Linked DNA regions of Homo sapiens: all the other regions are linked to region 2. The links come from fine-mapping of genetic effects on gene expression. A gene starts in region 2. Each other region holds a variant in brackets. All regions are shown on one strand. Distances are from middle to middle. Region 1 has its middle 5.3 kb from the start of DTYMK. Region 2 holds the start of ATG4B (autophagy related 4B cysteine peptidase). Region 3 overlaps ATG4B (autophagy related 4B cysteine peptidase).

Region 1 (8,177 bases), 54 kb after region 2:
TATCTAGAAAGCGCTCAGTAGTGTTTGCTGTTATCTTAGGGATATCAGGCTGCCTGGACATTTCTCAGGTGAGACTTTTTGTTATTTTAGATATCTAAAATACTACTATCTATATGTGCCATATTGTCAGTTGTCAGCTAGACATCACTTTCTCTGCTTAGCAGAAGAAATGGTAGGAACTGCATTTCCCAGAATCATCTGTGTAGCCCTGGATTACAGTCTACCAGACGAGGCACTCTTACCTTTCGAGGCGATTATTCTTGGGAGGCACCCTCAGCCAGAAATATAGATGAAATTCAAAGCTGTTCTGTTTTCAGAACCACCTGCCTCTGATGTAGACCAAGAAATTGCTGGTAGCTTTCTAAGTGTTGAGTTTGCATTGGTTTTTTCCCCATGAGCTCTTGAGACCACCACCCACTTCAGTGCTTTGGGCTGAGGTCATTGGCAACAATTTCCCGGACTTTACTCCCAGCATTTGTGTAAGCTCGCGATTATATTATCATTGCATACCTAGAGTAGCTTTATGTTTTCCAGACTGAAGCCTCCCCAATTCAGTTTGGGGTTCTGGAAGGATATGGGTTATATTGTTATTACCAGTTATGCCCTTTCTTCCTTTTTAATTTACTTTTATTGCTTTTATTTTATTTGAGACGGAGTCCTGCTCTGTCCCCCAGGCTGGAGTGCAGTGGCGCGATCTCAGCTCACTGCACCCTCCACCTCCCGGGTTCAAGCTATTCTCCTGCCTCAGCCTCCTGAGTAGCTGGGATTACAGGCGCCCACCACCACGCCCGGCTAATTTTTGTATTTTTATTTTATTTTTTTGAGATGGAGTCTTGCTCTGTTGCCCAGGCTGGAGTGCAGTGGCGCAATCTTGGCTCACTGCAAGCTCCACCTCCCGAGTTCATCCCATTCTCCTGCCTCAGCCTCCCCACTAGCTGGGACTACAGGTGCCCACCATCATGCCCGGCTAATTTTTTTTGTATTTTTTAGTAGAGACGGGGTTTCACCGTGTTAGCCAGGATGGTCTCGATCTCCTGACCTCATGATCCGCCCATCTCAGCCTCCCAAAGTGCTGAGATTACAGGCGTGAGCCACTGCGCCCGGCCAATTTATTTTTTAATTTAATTTTTTTTTTGAGACGGAGTTTCTGTCTTGTGGCCCAGAGTGGAGTGCAATGGCATGATCTTGGCTCACTGCAACCTCCACTTCCCGGGTTCAACCTATTCTCCTGCATCAACCTCCCAAGTAGCTGAGATTACAGGCACCTGCCACCACGCCCAGCTAATTTTTGTATTAGTAGAGATGGGTTTTCACCATGTTTGCCAGGCCGGTCTCAAATTCCTGACCTCGGGTGATCCGCCCACGTCAGCCTCCCTAAGTGCTGGGATTACAGACGTGAACCACTGCACCTGGCCTACCCTTTCTTCCTTTACGTCAAGCTTAGTGGTGAGACTTCCAAATGGTAATGTAAAGTAGTCTGCTGTCATGTGCCCTGTTCAGGCAGAAGCTTTAAAGGGTGTTTTGTGGTTTGGTCCCTCCCCTTCTGCCCCCAGCATGAACACAGCATGTGCACAGTGAGGGCTGGTTTTTCACCCCAGATCCTGTAACAAAGGCCCATGAAGTACAGCCGTTGTAGCTGATGGGCAGCACCAGCAAGAAGTAAACCATCGTGATTTCGAGTCACTGAGACTTCGGGATCCTTTGTTACCACAGCACAACCTAGCGAACGCTTACAAGTACTAAGAATAGTACTTACTATTCCCTTACATAGATAAGTAATAAAAGTAATATCCTTTTTTCTGATTGATGTCTCCTTATAAAATTCCATCTTGTTGCCTTCCAGAGGATGAAGGGGATTGTAGTAAGGAAGACCACCTTCCAGAGGATGAAGGGGATTGTAGTAAGGAAGACCACCTTCCAGAGGATGAAGGGGATTGTAGGAAGGAAGACCACCTTCCAGAGGATGAAGGGGATTGTAGGAAGGAAGACCACCTTCCCGGGGCTGGGCAAGGCTGCGGTACTGTCTCTCATCAGGTCCAGGAGGACTCAGCAGGCTGATGCAGAGGGACACAGCGCATCCGCCTTGGTGGATGCATGGCTTTCCTGGCTCCCCTGGGACGGGGGAGGAGGGTGAAGATGGAGGGAATCTGGCTGGCTGGGCCTTGTGTACTGGGGGGTGGAGGGCCCATTTGACTGCAGGAATTGCTCAAGCACATAAGCACCTTGAAGTGTGTTACTAAGATACAAGAAACAGGTTTGCTTTTGCCTATTCCAGCATGGTGTACCTCTCTTAGGATACCTTTTAGCACAGGTAGCAGAATACCAGCCAGCCTCCTGTGGCTCACAGCATTAAGATATTTAATCATCTGACATTACATGAAGTCCAGTGTTAGGCAGGCAGGAGCTGCTCCCGTGACTCAGTGACATCAGGTTGGTCCACATCCTAGCAGTTCTCTTGGTGTTCCTGCGTGATCAAAGGATGACTGCCACACCCCAGCCTGCTGACCTCAGCCCTGGCGTGGGCATAGGAGGGTCTGCGTGGCTGAGCATCCAGTGTCCTTCGTACTGCCACTGACAGCCTCAGGCCTGATTTCCAGCACTGTCTGTCCAGGAGCAATGGGAGCAAGAGTCACTCCACGAGACTCTGGAGGCCTGATAGGTGAGTACATCCACTTTATAGGGGAAATGGTGGGATGCTGGGTCTGTGTGGTCAGAGATACAGGTGAAATGGAGTTGGCCACAGGCTGATAATTGCAGAAAGATGCAGGTGAACACATGGGTTCGTGGGTTCATTAGGTTCTCTGCTTGCTTTTTTTTTTTTTCTTTTTTTCCCAGACAGCCTCGGTCTGTTACCCAGGCTGGAGTCCAGTGGTGTGATCTCAGCTCGCTGCAACATCCACCTCCTAGGTTCAGACGATTCTCCTGCCTCAGCCTCCCAAGTAGCTGGGATTTACAGGCGCCCGCCACAACACCCGGCTAATTTTTTGTATTTTTAGTAGAGACAGGATTTCACCATGTTGGCCAGGCTGGTCTTGAACTCCTGACCTCAGGTGAGTCCACCTGCCTCAGCCTCCCAAAGCGCTGGGATTACAGGCGTGAGCCAGCGCACCCAGCCAGGTTATCTGCTTTCTTGTGTTTGAGATTTTCCATTTAAAAAAAAGGACCTGGGTGTTGTGGCTGACACCTGTAATCCCAGCACTTTGGGAGGCCGAGGTGGGTGAATCATTTGAGGTCAGGAGTTCAAGACCAGCCTAGACAACATGGTGAAACACCGTCTCTACTAAAAATACAAAAATTAGCTGGGTGTGGTGGCACATGCCTGTAATCCCAGCTACTTGGGAGGTTGAGACAGGAGAATCACTTGAACCTGGGAGGTGGAGGTTGCAGTGAGCTGAGATCATGCCACTGCACTGCAGCCTGGGTGACAGAGTGAGACACTGTCTCAAAAAAAAAAAACAAAAACAAAAAAACTGAAGGAGCAGGAAAGCTCTTTTGCTAGTCCCTGTTTCTTAGTGTGCTGCAACTTCCACCACGCAGGGAATAAAGTCTCTCACCGTCAGTGGGCTGGGGCTGTCAC[G/A]ACAGACTACCTTAGACTGGGGAACTGAAGCAATAGGCATTTATTGGCTGGAAGTCCAAGATTAAGGTGCCCGACAGATTGCTGCCTGGTACGGGCTGTCTTTTAGAGTTGCACATAGCAAAGAGAATGCTCTGGTACCTCTTCCTTTTCTCATGAGGGTACCAGCCCTATCGGATTAGGGTTGCACCCTTATTGAAACCATCCCTGGCCAGGCATGGTGGCTCACACCTACAATCCCAGCACTTTGGGAGGCAGGTAGATTGCTTGAGCTCAGGAGTTTGAGACCAGCCTGGGCAACATAGACTTATTTGTAGATTTATTTATCTCTACAAAATAAATAGGTGGGCGTGCCTATAGTCCCAGCTACTTGGGAAGCTGAGGTGGGAGGATCACTTGAGCCTAGGAGGTTGAGGCTGCAGTGAGCCATGGTTGCGCCACTGCACTCCAGCCCAGGTGACAGAGTGAGACCTTGTCTCAATTTTTAAAAAAATATAAAAAAAGAAAACCGTCACTAAAAACACAAAATTAATCAAGGAAGAGGGGAGGGGGAAATGGAATAACCGAGCTTGCAGCACACGCAGCACCAGTCATGTGGTGAGCCCCTCTGAGCTGGCGCCTCGTGCCTCAGAATCAGGTAGACTCTTGTTATAAGATTACAGTTACCCTTAACTGCTCCAGAGATAACAACTTGAACATTATGAAACCTTAACTTTTCCCTTTGAGATTTTTTTTTTATTTTAATTTTTTTTTCTTTTTAGAGACAGGGTCTCACTCTTGTTCAGGCTGAAGTGCAGTGGCACAATCGTAGCTCACTGCAGCCTTGAGGTTCTGGTCTCGAGTGATCCTCCTGCCTCAGCATCTGAAGTATCTGGAACTACAGGCACACACATCTGGCTTTTTTTTTTTTTTAAATACTGACGGGGTCTTGCCCTGTTGCCCAGGCTGGTCTTGAACTGGTGGGCCCAAGCGGTCATCCTGCCTCGGCCTCCTGAAGCCCTGGGATTGCAGGCATGAGCCACCACGCCCAGCCTGAGATTCTTTCAGGCCCTGCATACCAGTGAAAGTACTGATGCCAGCTGCTCTGAAGGACCCCACAGGAGCTGACTCAGCAAGGAATGCAGTTTCCACATTCTAGTGAATCATCCTCCTTACCCTGGCCAGTCAGCGACCCCCATTTTCCAGCCCCTCACCTTCCATGATCCCCTTAAAAACCTTAGCTCAGAACTCCTGAGGGAGATGTATTTGAGGAGACGTCTCCTTTCACCTCCTCACCTGGGCCTTGTTAAACTCTTTCTCTGCTGCAAACCCTGCTGTCTGAGCATCATGGGTCTGTTAACTGTGCAGCAGACACATGAAAACTGTTGGTCCTATCACATTAGGACTTCATTTAACCTTAATTAGCTCCTTGGCCAGGTGCGTTGGCTCACGCCTGTAATCTCAGCACTTTGGGAGGCAGAGGCGGGCAGATCACGAGATCAGGAGCTCGAGACCAGCCTGGCCAACGTGGTGAAACCCCGTCTCTACTAAATATACACAAATTAGCTGGGTGTGGTGACGGGCGCCTGTAATCCCAGCTACTCAGGAGGCTGAGGCAGGAGAATTGCTTGAACCCAGGAGGCGGAGGTTGCAGCTGAGATCGCCCTATTGCACTCCAGCCTGGGCGACAGGGCGAGACTGTCTCAAAAAAAAAAAAAAAAAAAAGCAAAGCTCCTTAAGGGCCCTATCTACAAACAGTCACGTTGGGGGTCAGGGCTTCAACACAGGAATTTTGAGGGACACAGTTCAGTCCATGTCCTCACCTGCTCCCAGGAGCTTCGAGTTGTGCTGGTACTCACTGCTCTGCTAAACTCCCAACCCTCCTTGCAGGTAGATGTGGCATGTGGACCTTCACACAGCAGGCTTGCATCCCCTACGCTCTCCGACATACCCCTTGTTGCAACCCAGCCTTGACCAGGCAGACGATGGCAAGGCCCTTTGTGGACAGACACCATACAAGAAGGAATGTGGGTCCCTGAGAGGCCCCATGGAGTGTGCTGTCCCGCCTGTTCACATTAGAGTTGTTGCACTGAGAAATACAACTCTTTTTTTTTTTTTTTTTTTTTTTGAGACTGAGTCTTGCTCTGTCGCCCAGGCTGGAGTGCAATGGCGCAGTCTCGGCTAACTGCAACCTCCACCTCCCAGGTTCAAGCAATTCTCCTGCCTCAGCCTCCCGAGTAGCTGGGATTACAGGCACCCACCACCATGCCTGGCTAATTTTGTATTTTTAGTAGAGACGGGGTGTTTCACCATGTTGGCCAGGCTGGTCTCGAACTCCTGACCTCAGGTGATCCACCCGCCTTGGCCTCCTAAATTGCTGGGATTACAGGCATGAGCCACCGCGCCTGGCCCTCTCTGGCAGTTTCTAAAACAGGGTCCCTTCAAAAGGGTTTGCCAGTTTTGTGTGTGTGAATGAAAGAAGACAAATTGATCTCTGGGAGAGTTATATTTAATATATGATATGTGAGGGCCAATAACCCTTAATAATAAAGATTTTTTTTTTTTAGACAAAATACATGAAGACCAGTTTCTACACAGAGAATCACTAAAAGATGGCCAGGCGCGGTGGCTCACGCCTGTAATCCCAGCACTTTGGGAGACCGAGGCGGGCGGATCACAAGGTCAGCAGATCGAGACCATCCTGGCTAACATGGTGAAACCCCATCTCTACTAAAAATACAAAAAATTAGCCCGGCGTGGTGGCGGGCGCCTGTAGTCCCAGCTTTTCGGGAGGCTGAGGCAGGAGAATGGCATGAACCTGGGAGGCAGAGCTTGCAGTGAGCCAAGATCACACCACTGCACTCCAGCCTGGGCGACAGAGCGAGACTCCATCTCAAAAAAAAAAGAATCAGTAAAAGATATAAAGGAGAAAAGGACAGAACCACAAATAGGCAACAAATATGTTAAAAAAAAGTTTAGCTTCACTTAAAATGAAATAAATGTGATTAAAATATTTAAGGTTGGCTTTTTCCCCCCTCTAATGAGTTAGCGAAGGTTAAACATTTAAAAAGCCTGATGAAATCTAGGGTTGGCAGAAGTATGGAAAGCAACCAGTGGCCATGCTGGTTGGTATAACCTTCCCTTTGGGCAATTCATTTATAAGTATCAGCACTTAAAATGTGCAATACTCGGCCAGGCATGGTGGCTCACACTGTAATTCTAGCACTTTGGGAGGCCGAGGCGAGTGGATGATGAGGTCAGGAGTTCGAGACCAGCCTGGCCAACATAGTGAAAACCGGTCTCTACTAAAAATACAAAAAAAATTGGTAGGGCTTGGTGGCGGGCGCCTGTAGTCCCAGCTACTTGGGAGGCTGAGGCAGGAGAATCGCTTGAACCCAGGAGGAGGAGATTGCAGTGAGCCGAGATTGCGCCACCGCACTCCAGCCTTGCGACAGAGCAAGACTCCGTCTCAAAAAAAAAGGACTGGTAAGACAATGTGGTATTCTTGCTCCTCCTCCCACTGTTAGTTGTGGGTATAATGTTTCTCCCATTCAACCTGGGTCGGCCCCAGTGACTTGCTTGACCAATAGAATGTAGTGAGGTGATGTCTTAGGGCTACCAAAGTGAGGTCACAAGAGCCGGTGGCTTCCACCCCAGCCTCCTGGGACTCTGTGAGACCCGCTGCTACTGAGACTGCTGTGCTGGAGAGGCCACATGTGGGTGTTCTGGCCCACGGTGCCAGCTGACATCAGCCTTCCAGCCACCCCAGTGATCTCTTTTCTGTCACACTGGACAGGACAGTCACCTGGTGGAGCTGCTGAAATTCCTGGCACGCTGTCACATATAACAAAATAGTTCTTGGCGGCACGGTGGCTCACGCCTGTAATCCCAGCACTTTGGGAGGCCAAGGTGGGTGGATCACAAGGTCAGGAGTTCAAGACCAGCTTGGCCAATTTGGTGAAAGCCCATCTCTACTAAAAATACAAAAATTAGCTAGGCATGATGGCACGCGCCTGTAGTCCCACCTACTCAGGAGGCTGAGGCAGCAGAATTGCTTGAACCCAGGAGGTGGAGGTTGCAGTGAGCTGAGATCGCGCCACCACACTCCAGCCTGGGTGACAGAGCAAGATTCCGTCTAAAAAAAAATGGTTCTTTTAAACCACTAAGTTTTCAGGGGTCTGTAAGGCGGTGATACATAATGGGAACAGATACTTGCAGTTCTATGTATAGCCATGTTCATTACAGCATGATTTATGATACTGAAATATTGGGAACATCTGTAAAGAGTTTGTTAAAGTCTGATACACCACTACAATGAAATAGATCTAGTCAGTGGGACAAAGCAGGGTGAGTAAAGCAGGGCCAGATGCTCACAAGGAGTATTCAGCTAAAAATGTAAGACAGGCTGGGTGCGGCAGCTTATACCTATAGTCCCAGCATTTGCGGAGGCCAAGGCAAGAAGATTGCTTGAGCCCAGGAGGTCAAGCTGCAGTGAACTGTGATCACACCACTGTCCTCCAGCCTGGGCGACAATGTGAGATCCTGTCTCAAAAAACAAAACAGGCTGGGCTCGGTGTCTCATGCCTGTAATCCCACCACTTTGGAAGGCCGAGGCGGGCAGATC
Region 2 (8,177 bases):
AAGAACATCTTCTACCTGCAGTTATTACTGGAGTAGAAATCTGAAAGACCCGTTGTCTACCCATACAGAGCTTATAGTCTGTAGGGCGGATGGGAAAGAAGGTAACCAACTGCTCCCCAGGCTGTGGTAAATGCCCAATGGGGACACAGGATGCTGACAGACAGTGCCAGGATGGCCTCAGGACAGCAGGAAATAGCTCCTAGAAGCTGACTGCTAACCAACCCTCCCAACTTGCCTGGAAGGTAGGACTCTGGGTACCAAAACCAGGGCCAGCATCCACAGACACTAGGGCGTGAGAGGTCAGGACTGCATGGAGGCAGCCCTGGCTGTGCGCAAGCAGCTGAGAATCTGGAGACCTCCAGAAGACTCCAGAGCTACAGTTCTGTGTTCCTGTTGCATGCCCACCTCCAGGAGTAAAAATGCTCCTTTTAAAAGTCAACCAGCCCAGGGACAGGGCACAATGGTGCTCACCTGCAGTTCCAGTTACTTGGGAGCCTGAGGCTTGAGGGTTCTTTGAGCCCAGAAATTCGAAGTTACAGTGAGCTAAGACTGCACCACTGCTCCCCATCCTGGGGAACAGAGTGAAACCCGGTCTTCTCCCCTCAAAAAAAATCAACCAACTCAGATGATCCTTGAGGACATTATACTGAATGAAATAGGGCAGGTGCAAAAAAACAAACACTGCATGATACCACTCACATGAGGTACTCAGAGTAATCAAATTCATAGAGACAGGAGAATGCGGGTTCCCAGAGCCTAGGGAGAGGAGGACTGGGGTATTAATGTTTAATGAGTCCAGAGATTCCGCTTTACAAAATAAAAATAATTCTGGAGGTGGATGGTAGTGACAGCTGCACAACAACGTGAATGTATTTGTTGCCATGAATTGTACACTGAAAAAGCGGTAGGAAAGGCTGGGAGCCGTGGCTCATGCCTGTGATCCCAGCTACTCTGGAGGCTGAGATGGGAGGACCACTTGGGTCCAGGAGGCTGAGGCTGCAGTGAGCTACGGTCATACCATTGCACTCCAGCCTGGGTGACAGAGTGGGACTCTGTCTCCAAAAAAAGTTAGGATGGTAAATTTCATGTTACATGTATTATACCATAATTTAAAAATGGTGAGAAAAAAGCAACCAGCGCAGGAAGATACTGAATAGGATGTTTAGTCATTTCTTTATTACCTAATAAAGATCCTTCATAACCATTTCTTCATTAAGGCAAACTCTGTGTTTAAGAACATAGGCCTGGGCCGGGCGGGGTGGCTTATGCCTGTAATCCCAGCACTTTGGGAGGCCGAGGCGGGTGGATCACTTGAGGTCAGGACTTTGAGGCCAGAGTTCGAGACCAGCCTGGCCAATATGGTGAAACCCTGTCTCTACTAAAAATACAAAAAAATTAGACAGGCGTGGTGGCGCTTGCCTGTAATCCCAGCTACTTGGGAGGCTGAAGCAGGAGAATAGCTTGAACCCAGGAGCGGGGGTTGCAGTGAGCCGAGATCGCACCAATGCACTCCAGCCTGGGCGACAGAGGGAGACTCCTTCTCAAAAAAAAGAGAAAAAAAGAAAAAAAAACCAGGCCCTAATGTGCACATAAGGGACAGGGTGGTCAGTTCTAACTGCTATTTGCTCCACCTGAGGCCAGTGTGGACCAGGACAAATCCTAACAGGATGGACTGGGCCGTTCTAAGCAACAGGACCTTCTAACCTCCTTTCTGAACACTGTGAGGCCAACTGCAAAGGTACCCCCCCACCCCCAATTCCGATGTCCTTTCCTCCCATACCATGTTAGACCGTTGCAACACGTTGCCTCGTTTTCAAAAAACAATAACAAAACTTCTAGGACACAAGCTCTGAAGGAAATTGTCAAGAAAGTGCGCTGGCTGACTTGTGAAATAATCTAATGTTACTAATTCTTATAATACATTGTAATGATTTAAGACTTACAGCAAACTACTGTGAACTTTCAATAACCCTATAAATAACACGTGCCATTCCCGTCTTTAAAACTTAAATAACACCATGCAACATAAAACAGAAACATCTCCAAAGTGGTTTTTAAAGTCTGTTCGCGGTTCTGGTGCCTCCCGCGTGTAATCCGCAGAAATCTCACTGAAATAGGCTGAACTCACAAGGCCTTAGAGGGGTTTGGGCCCTGCCGCGGGGGCCCACGTGGGAAGCGGCCGAGAGCCCCGGGCCAGGCTCTAAGGGAGCGCAGGAGGATGCCGTCCCCAGCCGGCCGTCCCGTAGACTCTCCGCGCGTACCCGCGTCCTGGGCTCGGGGGCCCAGTCCCGGAAAGCCCTCTCGGGGGCTGTCAGCTACGGAGGCGCAGGTCGCGTCTGCCCGGTCGCTCCTGCTCGCAGACATCCAGGCCGACGGCCCGCGCGGTCCGGAGAGTCAGCAGTCGCGGCCGAGCAGGACAATCGGCCCAGGACCTGCGCTTCCAGAGCGTGCGGCTTCTGAAGCCTAGGCGCCGGCCGGATCGATCGCGCGCAGGGCGGACCCAGGCGGCCGGGGTGGGGGCGGCTGCGCTGCCCGAGGCGCCCGGCCCAGAGACGGCGGCCGGGCCAAGGTCACACAGCGCCCACGCCCGCTCCCCCGCGCCCCGGCCGCCGAGGCCCGGCGCCCCCGCCCCCCGCGTTCGGGCCGGCCGCGGGGCCTCAGTTTCCCCGCAGGGCCGGGTCGGGGCGGGGGCGTGGCGGCCCGGGGCCCGCGTACCTGTGGAAGGAGACGGCGCGCTTCTCGCCCTTTCCCTGCCGGTTGGAGCAGTTCACGGCCGCACAGCAGATCACCATCGCGGGCCTTGGCCCAGCCGCGCAGCCAGGCCCCGGCCCTAGCCGCCCGCCCGCCCGCGGACCGCCCCGAGGGAGGGAGCGCGGCGGCGACACGGCTCGGGACGTGGGCCGGCCCGCGGCGTCCGCGCCGTACGGCAAGATGGAGGCGCAGGCGCCCGCAGCGGGCCCGCCCCCGCCCCAGCCCCCGCCCGCGTCCTCGCCAGCCGCGGGTTCGGGCGTCTTCGGACCAGCGGGGCGCCGCAGGCCCCTCGCAGCGTCCGTCGGCAGGCGGGCAGACGGGCGGGGGAGTCGCCCCGGCGGGGCAAGTCCGTACCGCGACATGGGCGCGCCGAGCACGTCCGTACCGCAAGATGGCTGCTCGGACGGGGACAGAGCTCGCCTCTGCCGCCTCGACAACTGCTCCTGGGTCCTCTAAGAGGAGGAAGCGCCACCCATGGCACACAGTGTCCCGTCGGACAGCAGAACCAGCCGTCGTCCCACGACACGACCCCATGCCGCCCGCAGGGCGCCCCGGGGCTCGCGTCGGCCCGGCCGTACGCCAAAATGGCGGCTCCCGCGTATTTCCGCTCGCGCGCCGTATCGTCTTCGCCGCCTGCGCCGGCACACCTATTGGCCCCCGCGGCGTCCCGTCGCCGCGTCGCGTTGCTGGCCCGTCGGAGCGACGCCGCTCGGGTCAGTCGGCGGCCGGACTGGGAAGATGGACGCAGGTGAGGAGTTGCCGGGGGTCGGTCTTTCCGCAGGAGGTGCTCGCCTTATCATTGGCCTCCCCTGCTCGGGTCGGGCTGCCGCGACTCGCCTCGGGGCACGCCGGTGCGGGCCAGGCTGGGCCGGGGCGGCGGGCGCTGCGGGAGCGCGGGGCGGTGTTGGTGGGTGGTGGGCGGTGGGAGCGGGAGGGGGACGGCGGCGCACTGCGCCGCGGAACCCGCCGTCGGTTGCGCTGGAGCTTCTGCTTTTCCGGTCCCGTCCGGAGCGCTCCGGAGGTTGTGGCTGCACAGGCCCTTGCGCCAGGTCGGCCGTGGAGGGCGGCGGAGCCTGCCGGGCGGGGAGAGGCGCGGCGGCGAACGGGGCGGCCGCGGTCCGGGCCGGGGACGCGAGCGGCGGGCGAAAGCGTAGCCTTTCCGCAGCTGAGCGTGAAGGGATGGAAGCTCTTTAACTTTTATGAAGTTATTGGTAGGTTGGAGGAGAGAAACGTGACGTGTTCATCACAGTATACGTATCTTTTTTGTTTTTGTCTTCAATTTAGTAACCAGTAGATTCTCCAAGCTGCTTTTCCGTGACGAGAAAGAGAAACAGTGAATTTGTATCATCGGGTCTTAGTTTCTTGGGGTCCTAAGAGAGAGAGAAAGAGAAGGAGTGTGTGTGTGTGTGTATAGGGAGTGTTGGTTTTTTTCCTATCCTTTCATGCTTCCGCTCCATTTTTGCTAGCAAGATTATTTTAAGTCAGCGCCAAACCCATCGCTAGCCCAGTAGCCCTAGAAATATTTTTACACAGAAGTTTTAGCTCATTCATTCTTTGTGGGAACTGATTTGCCTTTTACCAAGTATCCCCCATCTGTAAAGAAAGATTTTCATCTGGTTTAATTCTGTCATTCTGAATGGGATTGTTTTTACTTTTTATTTTTCTGGTAGCTACAACATAAATTTATTAAGATCTGAGTTGGAAAACTGTAATGTGTATTGCCAATATCTATTAAAATGATTTGTAGCAGCTCACCACTTAAATGTGGTAGGTGGCTGGAGGAAACAGGAGCCCTGACTCCCTAAGGAGCATGTTGACCAGGTGTATATCTTGTGAAGTTTGTCTTTTAGAATAACCGTCATTCACGGTTGAACTATTTGCAGCTGTGTACTATTTGTTGTTTACTATTTTACAACTGTTGTATTATATCTTTTTAGGTGTTATTGTTTGTGATGCAGGATTTTTCTCAGCCACTCTGGCAGCCAGAGACCTCCGGCTGGCGAGGCCCCTGCCCAGGCCTTGCTTGGGTCCAGGCTCGCCGCAGGAGATACCCCATCTACTTGGTCCACCGGTGGGCACCTGGTTTGCACTATGGCACGGATACCATGGCCACCATGACTGTATGCTCAGCCCCTGGCGGGAGTGGGTGTGTGGGTGAGTGAGTGCCGGGTCCCGCCAGCTGTTTCAAGCGCAGGCACCAGAGTGGGCTCTGCAGAGCTTACAGCTAGACATGTGGCAAGCAACTCCCACGGCGGACTCCAGCGTCCAGACAAAGGGACAGTGGATTCTGGTGTCCAGACAAGGGGAAGGTAGTGGCGCCCAAGCAGGGGTGCTTACAACCCTGAAGCCCAAGAGGGGGTGTTGCAGAGTGTCAGCAGCCCTGTTACTCCCATTGCCCTGCTCCAGGCTATAGCTCTGGGGCTGGCTCCGTCCCCGCTGCTTCCCTTTGCTGCCTCCTGTCACGTGGGGTGTCACAGTGGGTGGCTGCCCTTTGCCGGCAGAGGGCCCAGGGCCACAGTGTTACAGCCTTCTTTGTACTTGCATTCATTGGGTCCCTAGTTCTTGTCCCACGTCCAAGAAGAATGAGACTACACTTAACACTGACAATCGAAGGGTGAGGAGGGTGGAGAATAGTTTTATTGAGTGATGAAACACCCCTCAGCAGAGAGGGGACTCAAGGGTGGTCTTCCACCCAAAGTCGGGTGGTCTCCCTTGGTGTGGCTGGGTCCAGGGCTTTTATAGGCTCAGAATGGGGAGTGTGTGCTGATTTGTCTGTGAGTATGCAAAAAAGGTTAAAACAAAGTCACTACTCAAAGGTGGGCACAACAGTGTAATAAACCAATTAGAGAAAAGTAGGTATATGTAAAATAGGTGAAGGGTGGGGATTAATTAGAGGAAAGCGCACCAAACAGGAAGAGAGGTTCGCAATCCAGTCTGTGGATTTATCCGAGACTCGTCGCTTGGCTTTCAGGCTTTAAACTGTGGCTTGAAGGTTGGGTTTCACTGGTGACCCACCCCTCTCTGCCTAGGATTTGTCTGCCTCCTGCCTCTATCATTTCGATACCTTGAGGCTGGAGTATCATATGAGAGACTTGGCTAAGGTCAAAAACACGGTTCAGTGTCGATCATATGACCTAAAATGTGAAAATCATCATGTTCAAGTTGGGAGAACAGTTATGTTGTTACATGGCGATACTTTATTTTATCTTTTATTTTCCCTTGACAACTGTGTTGACATGGTGATACTTTAATAGGACACTGGATGTTGCTGCATGTGGGATCAGAGTAGAAAAGGTGTTTGCATTTAAAGGTCTCTGTTTATGCTGATAAAAACGTATATGATGTTTGTAGGATATCATGGGGAATTTTCCTTCTGACTTGATGCTGTATTTCCTTTCAGAGATGATTAATGATCTGCCCTCCTTTGATCTCTAGAGTTCTTGAAGATTCTGCCTTCCTTGACCATGTGTAATACAGTTTCTGTTCTGATAGTCATTAATTCAATACACTGTTTGTTACTGACTGTCAGATATGTGTTAGGCATTGTTCTAGACACTAGGACTAGAGAAGTAACAACATAGATGAAAACCATTGCCCTGGGGTAGCTAACGTTCTAGACATGAGACCAGCATTAGCAGCGAAGTGCGTGGCTCCTGGGGGATGGTGATTTGGGCCAAGGATGAGGAGGATTGGAATTGTAGCCAGGATGGCCAGGAAGGGTCTCACTCTGAAGGTTTAAGTTTTGACGAAGACTTAAAGCAGTGTAGGAGGAAGGGCAGGTAGCAAGAGCCTGGTGTGGCTCAGGTGCAGCGGGTGGCGGTGGGAGAAGCAGGAGCTGAGGATAGAAAGGTGACTTAGGCTCAGTGTAGTGGGGCCTTGCCAGCTCATAGTGAGGACTCGGTGTTTATTCTGAACAGGATGGCAGCTCATAGTGAGGACTCAGTGTTTATTCTGAACAGGATGGCAGCCGTTTGGAAGGTTTCATTCTAGAGGAGGAGTCACATGATAGACTGTGTTCAACAGGCTTGCTCTGGCATCTCTTTTGAGAATGTACTGCAGAGGGGCAAGGGCAGAGGCAGCGAGACCAGCTAAGAGACTGTTGAACAAGCCAGCAAGGAGATGCCAGTGGATTAGCTCAGGGTGGGTAAGAGGTTGACTTCTGCATGTGTTTTGGAGGTTGAGACAATAGAATTTGTTTGTAGATTGGAAGTTGGGAGAGGGATGGGTAGAGAGGGAGGAGTTAAAGATGGCCCCATAGTGTATGGCCTGAGCTAAGCAACTCAGATGGAGGGGGGCGGGCGTGGTGGCTCACGCCTGTAATCCCAGCACTTTGAGAGGCCGAGGTGGGCGGATCACAAGGTCAGGAGATCGAGACCATCCTGGCTAACACGGTGAAACCCCGTCGCTACTAAAAATACAAAAAATTAGCCGGGCATAGTGGCGGGCGCCTGTGATCCCAGCTACGCAGGAGGCTGAGGCAGGAGAATGGCGTGAACCCGGGAGGCGGAGCTTGCAGTGAGCCAAGACTGCGCCACTGCACTCCAGCCTGGGCGACAGAGCGAGACTCTGTCTCAAAAAAAAAAAAAAAAAGAAACTCAGATGGGGAAGACTTGGGGAGGTCCTGTCTGGTGGGAAGCTTTCTGTTGCGAGTTTGGATTTATGTGTGTTGAATGTGAGGTGGATGTTAGACATCCTTGTAGAGCAGTGTCCAGTGGGCTTTTGGGTCTACAGGTTTGGAGCTAAAAGAATAAGCCTGGGCTGGAGATAGACTGGAGGTCACATCAGATGAGGTCACCCAGGGTGTGAATGTGGGTGGGAAAGAAAAGAGGCCAAAGGCCTCTGCGGGTGTGGAGAGGTCCAGGAGGTGGCAGGCAGACCACAGTGTGGCTGTGTTCTCCACCAGTCCCTAGCACTGTCCCTAAAAGCATGCTCCCCATTCAGACGACTGGCAGGTGCCAGCACTTAAATAGCCACACTGCCCATTCCTTGAGGACAGAGCTGGTGTCTTGTGCTTGCATTTCTAGTGCATCACTTGTGTCTGGCATGTGGTTGGTAATAAAAAAAAAACAGAACTTGAATTAATAATAACCTACACATTCCCCTACTATCAAAGCTTTCAGTTTGTAGAGTTTAACATAAATCCAGTATGTTAGCATAACATGTAATGAATGCAGAGGCTGCTGGGGAGTGGTTTTTTTTTTTTTCTTGAGATGGAGTCTTGCTCTGTTTCCCAGGCTGGAGTGCGGTGGGCGCGATCTAGGGGAGTGGGTTTTAATGTGCGCAATCTGCCCAGTGTGTGCACTGAAACAGTGTTTTCTAGCTTTCTGATGTAGCTAAATTTGGAGTTCCTTTCTCTCTTTCTCTGTTTTCATTCAGGACTGAACTACTAGCATTCTCATGTAAACTCTTGGAGATTTAAAAAAAAG
Region 3 (8,177 bases), 32 kb after region 2:
AGCGAGGAAAGGCGTTGCTGAGGAGGCCCGGAGGGAGCGGGTTCTGGCTGTGCTGGCACTAGCCAGGCTGGCAGGCTGCGTGGGTACTTCTGTGATTTTCCTCTCAAGTGCACGTGGCTTTTTCTTGCACTGTTTCGTGTGTGTGCTTTATTTCACAATAAAACTCTTGAATTAAGTATGCATAGAAACTATTTCTTTTTTCTCTGGGTGGCAAGATTATGAAAAAATTTTCTTACGCTTTTCTATATTTTCCAAGTTTGAATTTCACTGTAAGCACCTGGCTTTGTACCGCCCTTTTTCTGTTACACAGTCATCATTTGCTTGCTTGTTGTGGGAGCACTTTTGCACAGGTCTGCTTGGTTAGTGAAAGCATGTCTCCCTTTCTAGGAAGGTTGTGCAGGACCAGCGTTCCCTGTGCAGGCGCCACTGCGTTTCCTGCAGATTCCGACCGGCACTGCAACGGATTCCCTGCCGGAGCTGAGGTCACCAACAGGCCGTCGCCATGGAGACCCCTGGTACTTCTCATTCCCCTGCGCCTGGGGCTCACGGACATCAACGAGGCCTACGTGGAGACGCTGAAGGTGGGTCCTGCCGTGCGGCGCTTGCCCTGAGTCCCCGTCCCCTTCTCCCAGTTCTTAGTCACTTTCAGCGCATCGTCGTCACGTGGCCATTTGTGCAGCCGGCTCTCGGGGGAGGGGTAAACAACCCTGGTTTACACCGTTGCCCAAGGGGTGAGTGGGCGTGAGGCACGTCCATCAGTAGGCACGTGCTGCTTTCGTTCTGCAAGTGTCAAGGCGAGTGTCGAGGATGAAAGCATGAGGCGCTTGCAGGGGGTCCTTGGAACCAGGTGCCACTCCTCGGCCTGACGGGGAGCCCCGCCCCCTCCCGGGTCTCCACTGTGCCCCAGGCATGCCCACCCCACTCCCCCACAGCCCTCTTGGCCTGAGGTCCCTTCGGAGGGTGGGTTGGCCTGTGAGGAAGGGACGTGTGGGCAGGGCCTGGGGATGGGCAGGGCTGTGTGAGGAGCTCCAGCCACAGGCTCCCCCATGTCATGAAAGCAAAAGGGGGCGGGGAGCGGTGGCTCATGACTGTAATCCCAGCACTTTGGGAGGGCAAAGCGGGCAGATCACGAGGTCAGGAGTCTGAGACCAGCCTGGCCAACATGGTGAAACCCTGTCTCTACTAAAAATATAAAAATTAGCCGGGCATGGTGGTGCGCGCCTGTAGTCCCAGCTACACAGGAGGCTGAGGCAGGAGAATCTCTTGAACCCAGGAGGCGGAGCTTGCAGTGACCCGAGATCATGCCATTGCACTCCATCCTGGGTGACAGAGTGAGACTCCATCTCAAATAAAAAAAAAAAAAAAGCAAGCAGAAGGGAAAACCATCCTTTCTTCAGGTAACTCAAATTTTAGACCAAGGAGTCACATTTGTATGGAACTGAAATGTGGCTTCCTGTTAAAATTATTCAGTTGTCTGAACTTGGCCCCTCCGTCCAGCCTTCTGCCCATCCTGTGGGGTCTCAGCTGCCCCCACACATAGGCCCCGTCTCCATCGCTTCTGCCCTGTCAGGTCAAAGCACTCAGCAGGGCCACCTCCCGCACCCCTGCTCACATCTCCTGCCAGGCCCCCTCACTCCCGGCCTCCCCAAAGCCCACCTCTGACATGAAGCTTCCCTGAGCTGAGCCTGCAGATTGGGTTTCTTGTGCCTGTGGGATGTCCTGTGGTCTTTCCTGGACAGTAAGCTCTTTGGTACCATGTCCCCTCCTGTCCCCTCTTGTGTCACCCAGTTGGGCCTCAGCAGGCCCTTGGGCCCCCTATGGCAGTGGGTGGGGGGACCGTCTGCTCCCACCTGGGACCTGTGCTCAGTCCCCCGCCCCTCCACAGCACTGCTTCATGATGCCCCAGTCCCTGGGCGTCATCGGAGGGAAGCCCAACAGCGCCCACTACTTCATCGGCTACGTTGGTGAGTCCAGGGTTCCCACCGTGTCCCTGTGGGCCTGGGCCTTTTAAGGGCATTCCATGAGCAGGTACCACACCCCAGGTGACCACTTGAGGCCACTGGTGGAAAAGCAGCATGCCCTGGGGTTCATTTTCAGCCTGGTCGCGGGCGGCCTCCTGTGTGCCCCTTTCCCTGATGGTCTGGTGCCCTCGGCTCCCTCCCCACCTCCTGCCCACTGCTTCTCAGTGTGATGTGGGTGCAGTGGGTCTGAAATGCGGCCTCCTCTGTCCCTTTCCTCTGCCGGCTCGGCCACCCACCTGCCCACCTGCCTCATCCTCCCAGGTGAGGAGCTCATCTACCTGGACCCCCACACCACGCAGCCAGCCGTGGAGCCCACTGATGGCTGCTTCATCCCGGACGAGAGCTTCCACTGCCAGCACCCGCCGTGCCGCATGAGCATCGCGGAGCTTGACCCGTCCATCGCTGTGGTACGTGGCGGCCACCTGAGCACACAGGCATTTGGTGCTGAATGCTGTTTGGGAATGACGAGGAAAACTTTCGGATTTTTGCGTTTTTTTTTTCAGCATGTTGGGATAAGTACTGTGTTCACGTGGTTGGGAATCTGAAGGGTATAAGAGCCGGAACTGTGTCCTTGCACCCTCACGTCCCTCCCCCAGGCACCACCTCCTGTGCAGCCTTCATGGCCTTCGAGTGGCCCAGAGAGCGTGTGTCTGGATGTGAGCGTGTGTGGGCGCGTGCTGAGTGTGCATGGATGAGTGTGAGCCATGGTGAGTGTGTCCCCCTCACACCTACATTTAAACACACGGGCGGCCCCTCCACCCACCCCTGCACCACCTTCGTCACACCCACATTTAAACACGGGCGGCCCCTCCACCCACCCACTCCTGCACCACCTTTTGTTTTCCGGAGGCTCTGACTTGACCTCTCTGGGGGATTTCCTAAGAAGGAGCTTCCCTGTTTTTCCATTTTGATTACCTAGTTGTGATTTTTGGTGTGTGATTTATGCAGACCTGCCTGCCCTCAAATATATTTGATGGGGAAAGAGGCCAAAAAACCCCCCTAGAAATCATGAATGACGGTGACATGCTCAGGGAAGCAGTTAACCGAATCGGGGGCTCTGTTGTGGATGCTCCGCCCCATTTAGGAGGAAGAAGGCAGATCTGGGCCTGAAATGGGACGGTCTCTGAGCTGTGGCGCAGCCCCAGAGTGCACACCACGCTCCATGCACCTCCTGGGCAGGGTGGCAGTAGTGGGGAACATGGGCTGGAGCTCTGTGGCTCACACTTTTTGTTTGTTTGTTTGTTTTTGAGACGGAGTCTCACTCTGTCGCCCAGGCTGGAGTGCAGTGGC[A/G]CGATCTCGGCTCACTGCAAGCTCCGCCTCCCAGGTTCACGCCATTCTCCTGCCTCAGCCTCTGGATTAGCTGGGACTACAGGCACCCGCCACCACGCCTGGCTAATTTTCTGTATTTTTAATAGAGACGGGTTTTCACTGTGTTAGCCAGGATGGTCTTGATCTCCTGACCTCATGATCCACCCACCTCGGCCTCCCAAAGTGCTGGGATTACAGGCGTGAGCCACTGCGCGCAGCCTGGCGCACACTTCTTACCAGAACCTAGTCACGAATTCCTCGTCGAACTAGAATTAGGTATGTTTGTTACTGTAAACGCAGCTTGGTGGCTTACAGTGATTGGCACTCTAACAGTCAGGTCAGGCTAGAGAGCCAGCCACCGCAGACAGAGGAGTGGACGCGTGAACGTTGAGTTGAGACCAAAGGGGCCACCTGGTGGGATAACTGTCCTCACCCGTGAGGAGGAGGAATGTCCCCTGTCCCCGGGGGAGAGTGCTCCTACACCAGCGCCGAGGCGGCAGAATGGTGTCTTCAGGGGAAGAGAGTGCCCAGTTTGAGCTTCTCCCCCCATTTCGTTTCTTTTTGTGTTAACATCTGCGCATCTGGCAGCGTTGAGAATTCCTAGTGACTGTCATTACAGGCGGCAGCTTTAAGGATGTGATTGCCGGTGACCCTTGGCCGGTCCCCTGTCTCCTGGCTCCTCAGCAGGAGGCTCCCTGTGTCACGGTGTCCTTGGGCAGTTCTCGGTGGCCTTTGCCGCCAAGCTTCCAGGGAGCTGCTGGGCGAAGGCTGAGACCCAGCGGCCCTGCCTCACAGTCACAGAGAGAAGAGCTCCCCACTTGGCCCTAACTCATAACCTGCCCCAATCCCGGAACACTCGGTGAGGTTTGAGAGATGCACACCACGTAACATCTCGTGGGCGAATCAAGGCACAGCAACGCAGTGGAGCCTGAGGGGAGCCGGGCACTGGTGCAGGGGACCATGCACAGGGCACCCTCGGAGCTCCGTTCCTGGCCACAGGAGCCAAGGCAGGCTGGAATGTCCAGCACCTGCATGCTGGGGGCCTCTGCTGCGCCACTGGCAGTGGGAATGGAAGCCCCCACCTCTTAGCCGACTGCAGATGGGGGTGTCGTGTTCTGCTCATCGTCATTTCGTTTTAGGGGTTTTTCTGTAAGACTGAAGATGACTTCAATGATTGGTGCCAGCAAGTCAAAAAGGTTTGTAGCCGCCCCACACCCACAGCCGAGCTGAGCCACCCAGGGAGACAGGCAGTGGGGCGTGCAGGGGTCGAAGGCCTGCGTCCAGGTCTCAGGCAGCCTCACTGGGCCGTGGGGAGCTTTGTCCCGCCTGGCACAGCTATGTAGCTGAGCAGGGTGGGGCGTCCTGGATTGCCCATCTGGCAACACAGTTAACAACCCTGGGGACGGATGTTGCGTGTTGACTTTAGAATGGGATTTCCAGTGTCCTCATCCGTCTCCTGTTGAGATGGGGGTGGTGATGGGGTGCTGAGCTACGCCGGCCGAGTGCGTGTGGCCCACCCCCCTCTGCCGTGGTGGTCAGACTGTGCTGTGTGTTGATCACCACACTGGGTTCTCGTGTAGCCTTTAGTGTGGAGCTGCCTCTGTTTTCTCATCAGTGAGATGGGATGACAGGTTTGTCCGCTGGCTGTGGCCGGCTGGCCCCTTTCTCTTGGCCGCAGCAAGCACTGGGGTGAGGCTGCACCTAACGGCCATGTCTCACTAACAGCTGTCTCTGCTTGGAGGTGCCCTGCCCATGTTTGAGCTGGTGGAGCTGCAGCCTTCACATCTGGCCTGCCCCGACGTCCTGAACCTGTCCCTAGGTGAGAGCTGCCAAGTCCAGGTGGGGTCCCTCGGAGGTACGATCTGTGCCCTTGCTTCCCCAGTCCTGGCCCCCTTGGTTTTGACCATTAAGGTGTGTGTGAGCCTGAGCCGTGAGCACTTGGCAGTGGTTCGCCTGTGAGACCAGGTATGGAGTGGAGCGTCCCCTCCTCCAAGCTTGCGCCCAGCAGCCCAGGACCCACCTCGTCTTCCCCACCAGCGCTGCCTGCCCGGGCGCTGTGGAGCTGGGCGTGCTACCATGGAGTCCTCAGGGGTCTGGAGCAGACAGAACATGCAGGCTCTGTGGTGACGCAGTCCTGGGTGGGGGACTGGTTCACTTGGGCACCACTGGCCATGGGTGGCGTAGACCCCTCGGACCATGGCCAGCGTGCCGCAGGAGCCGGCCTGGGCTCGTGCAGTGAAGTGAGTGGCCGTGAGCGCGTCCTCCTCATCTCTGTCTCCCTGTGGGAAACTCTACAAACAAGGCAATGGCAATGGAACCACTCCTGATGACCACGAGGGTCAGACGCGGGACAGAGGCCCCTCAGGCCTGAGATTGTGCCGGCCGCCCCCTGCCCTCCTCACCCTGCCCTGCTCCTCTTCTCTGCTCCCTCCCCCCATATTCGCAGGTCTGCACAACCCCCGGACCTGTTCACACCCGCATGGGGACAGCTGTCTGTGGGCTGCAGAGCAGGCACTGCTCAGTCTGCCCCACGCCAAGGGCCCTTGACTCACACCCAGGTGGCCCACCCAAGATGCCTGATGCGCTATGTCCTGTTCCTTCTAGATTCTTCTGATGTAGAGCGACTGGAAAGATTCTTCGACTCAGAAGATGAAGACTTTGAAATCCTGTCCCTTTGAAAATCCTGGGGTCGGGGGTGGCACCTGTGAGAGCCTGGGGCTCCTGGTGCCGCTGCGTTTCATCCATCCCGCCCGCTCGCCTGCCGAGGGCTGCGCCCCGTGCTGCCTCCCCCCAGAGGGCCACCCGCTGTGCTCGTGGACTGAGGCTGCGCTGCCCGGGAGGCCTTACTGCTTGGTGTCAGACTGCCCAGCTCAGAGTGCCCGTCAGGGCCTGTGCATCCGCACGCGGAGCCGTCTGTTAGGAGCTTCCAGAGTGTTCTCTCGACACTGCCAGCCCCGTGTTAGCACCTGGGCCTCAGTCCCACTTGCTCCCAGGCGCCGGTTCTGTGGTTGGTTTGGAATTAAAGTCCTGTTTGAAGTTGTCAGACACAGACATGAATTTCTGGGCGCTCCCTGAGTCAGAGTCTCAGAAGACCTGTGCAGGCTGGCGTGAGAGGAGCGGCAGCCACACTGCGGCCCCACGCCCAAGGACTGGGCTGCTCTCGAGGGGGGCGCGCCCACCGCTGTGTCCTCTCTGCCCAGCCTGGCTTACCAAGGGCTACCTCAGTGGGAGATGAGGTTGGAGGAACGAAGGCGAGGTTCCTCCTTGCTTTGGGGAGAAAAGTATTCAGGAAGTGGGTGTGTGGGAAACCTGAAGATGGCGTGCACAGGACACAGCGTGGGCGGCCTGGGCAGAAGGGCGGCTGGCTGTCCTGGAGCTGCTGCTGGAGCCTGCCCTCAGAGTGTCCCTTTCCAGTGCTGTGGCATTCTGTGGCAGCTTCCCCAGGTGTGGTGACGGGGGGGGGGCGGGGCCTCCACCTGTGACAGCCAGGCTTGAGGGTGGACGGCGTGCCTCTCCCAGGAGCCTTCCCCATGTCCTTGCCTTGCTGAGAATTGCCCTCCCATGCCGCTGAGGTGTTAGGTGGTTTAGGGCCAAAAGGGGAAAACCACTTGAGTCTTGTGGTGTGTGGTGGGCAGACACCACAGGGTGGCATCACCTGGTGGCATTTCCAGAACCTCAGCCCCGATTCCAGCACCCACCACCGCCTGACCCTGTGTAACCTGCTGTCCCGGGTCCCAGAGTGCACTCTGCCCCGCTGCTCTGCTGCCTGTCCTGGGAAAGTATCTTTGCCCCACTAGGAAATGTAAACAGGAGGGCTTGGGGAGCGTGGGCACTTTTCTCATGAGCAGCTACTGCGGCGTTGGCAGGACTCGCTGCTGCTGCTGCTGCTTGTGTAGGTCGGGGAGCCAGAGATCCCCGAGGACGCGCGCCGGACAGTCGGCACTGACCGGCCCACCTGGTAGCAGAGGACACCCCCAGCCCCCCAAGCATTGAAGACATAGTGTATTTCCTCGTATCCTTTCTCCCTTGGGTGTAGTTGGGGTGGGGAAGCAGGGAAGGCTGGTGCGATCTCCATTCCTTGGGCTCCACGTCCGAGTTCATGGTGCGCCGCTGTGCTGGGAGCTGCAGTGGTAATGTGTGGGACACCTTGACCAAAGGGGAGCTTTGTCTCGTGTGTTTTGAAAAAGGCTTAATGAAGAGAATGTTGTTCATTCTTAGTAGTATAGTTTGCAATTCTTAATGGCAAATAATAAGTTTCAGTAGAAAACAAACCTTGTGTCTATTTTTTCCTTAAGTTCTAATTGAATGTGAGTTCCAGAAAAAAAATAAGTGAATGTTTCAGCCCGTTCACACGTAAAGGATGTGGCTGCCTGCGTGGCGGGCTGTGGGGCCCTGAGCAGGTGTGTCCCCAGCCCTGGCAGGGGGCCTGTCCTGCCTGCAGCCTGGCTCTCTACCAGCCGTGGCATCAGCCACCTCATACAACCCTAGAAGGAAAAAGTGCAAGGAAAATAGGATTTTAGGAAAGTAAAATGGCGGTTCCCATCTTCAGCAGGAGGAAGTCACAGGAAGTGCCTGGAGTTGCAGGGTTTGCCTCGATTTGAATCATAGCAAAGCCTTCCCCAAGTGCGCAGTGACTGTCCTGGCCTGTGGGAGGCCATGCCTGGGGCACAGCAGGGGGCTTGGTGAGGACATTGCTCACTCTGGCCAGTGCATCCCTGTGGGCAGCCCTGGTATAGGTGTGAAGGGCCCAAAGCCAGATCGGAGGGGGCCCTGCTGGGTCCCCGGTGAGGTGGCTGAGGACTTGTGGCCTCTCCGATGCTCGTATTCGCTTCTTGTGGCTGCTCTAAA

The links.
Region 1: its variant is fine-mapped to the expression of ATG4B in whole blood (INTERVAL, PIP above 0.99).
Region 3: its variant is fine-mapped to the expression of ATG4B in whole blood (TOPMed, PIP above 0.99).

Annotation. Positions count from the first base shown.
Region 1 is chr2:241,687,995-241,696,171 of GRCh38, forward strand. It overlaps a transcript of ING5 not described here. Among named protein-coding and RNA genes, the nearest start is that of DTYMK, 5.3 kb to the left of the region's middle. The variant G/A (reference allele first, on the strand shown) is at 3,578.
Region 2 is chr2:241,634,226-241,642,402 of GRCh38, forward strand. It overlaps ATG4B (autophagy related 4B cysteine peptidase), which reads left to right and starts at 3,468. Exons shown (of 13, transcript NM_013325.5): 1 at 3,468-3,499. The coding sequence starts at 3,490. It overlaps THAP4 (THAP domain containing 4), which reads right to left and starts at 2,933. Exons shown (of 6, transcript NM_015963.6): 1 at 2,716-2,933. The coding sequence starts at 2,792. RefSeq lists silencers at 2,456-2,595, 2,666-2,735, 2,766-3,115, 3,486-3,535, 3,556-3,745 and 1 more and enhancers at 3,089-4,016, 4,416-4,949.
Region 3 is chr2:241,666,258-241,674,434 of GRCh38, forward strand. ATG4B (autophagy related 4B cysteine peptidase) reads left to right here. Exons shown (of 13, transcript NM_013325.5): 8 at 388-581; 9 at 1,886-1,964; 10 at 2,283-2,428; 11 at 4,469-4,525; 12 at 5,055-5,148; 13 at 5,934-7,600. The coding sequence ends at 6,007. Among named protein-coding and RNA genes, the nearest start is that of DTYMK, 16 kb to the right of the region's middle. RefSeq lists enhancers at 1,927-2,428, 2,429-2,928. The variant A/G (reference allele first, on the strand shown) is at 3,312.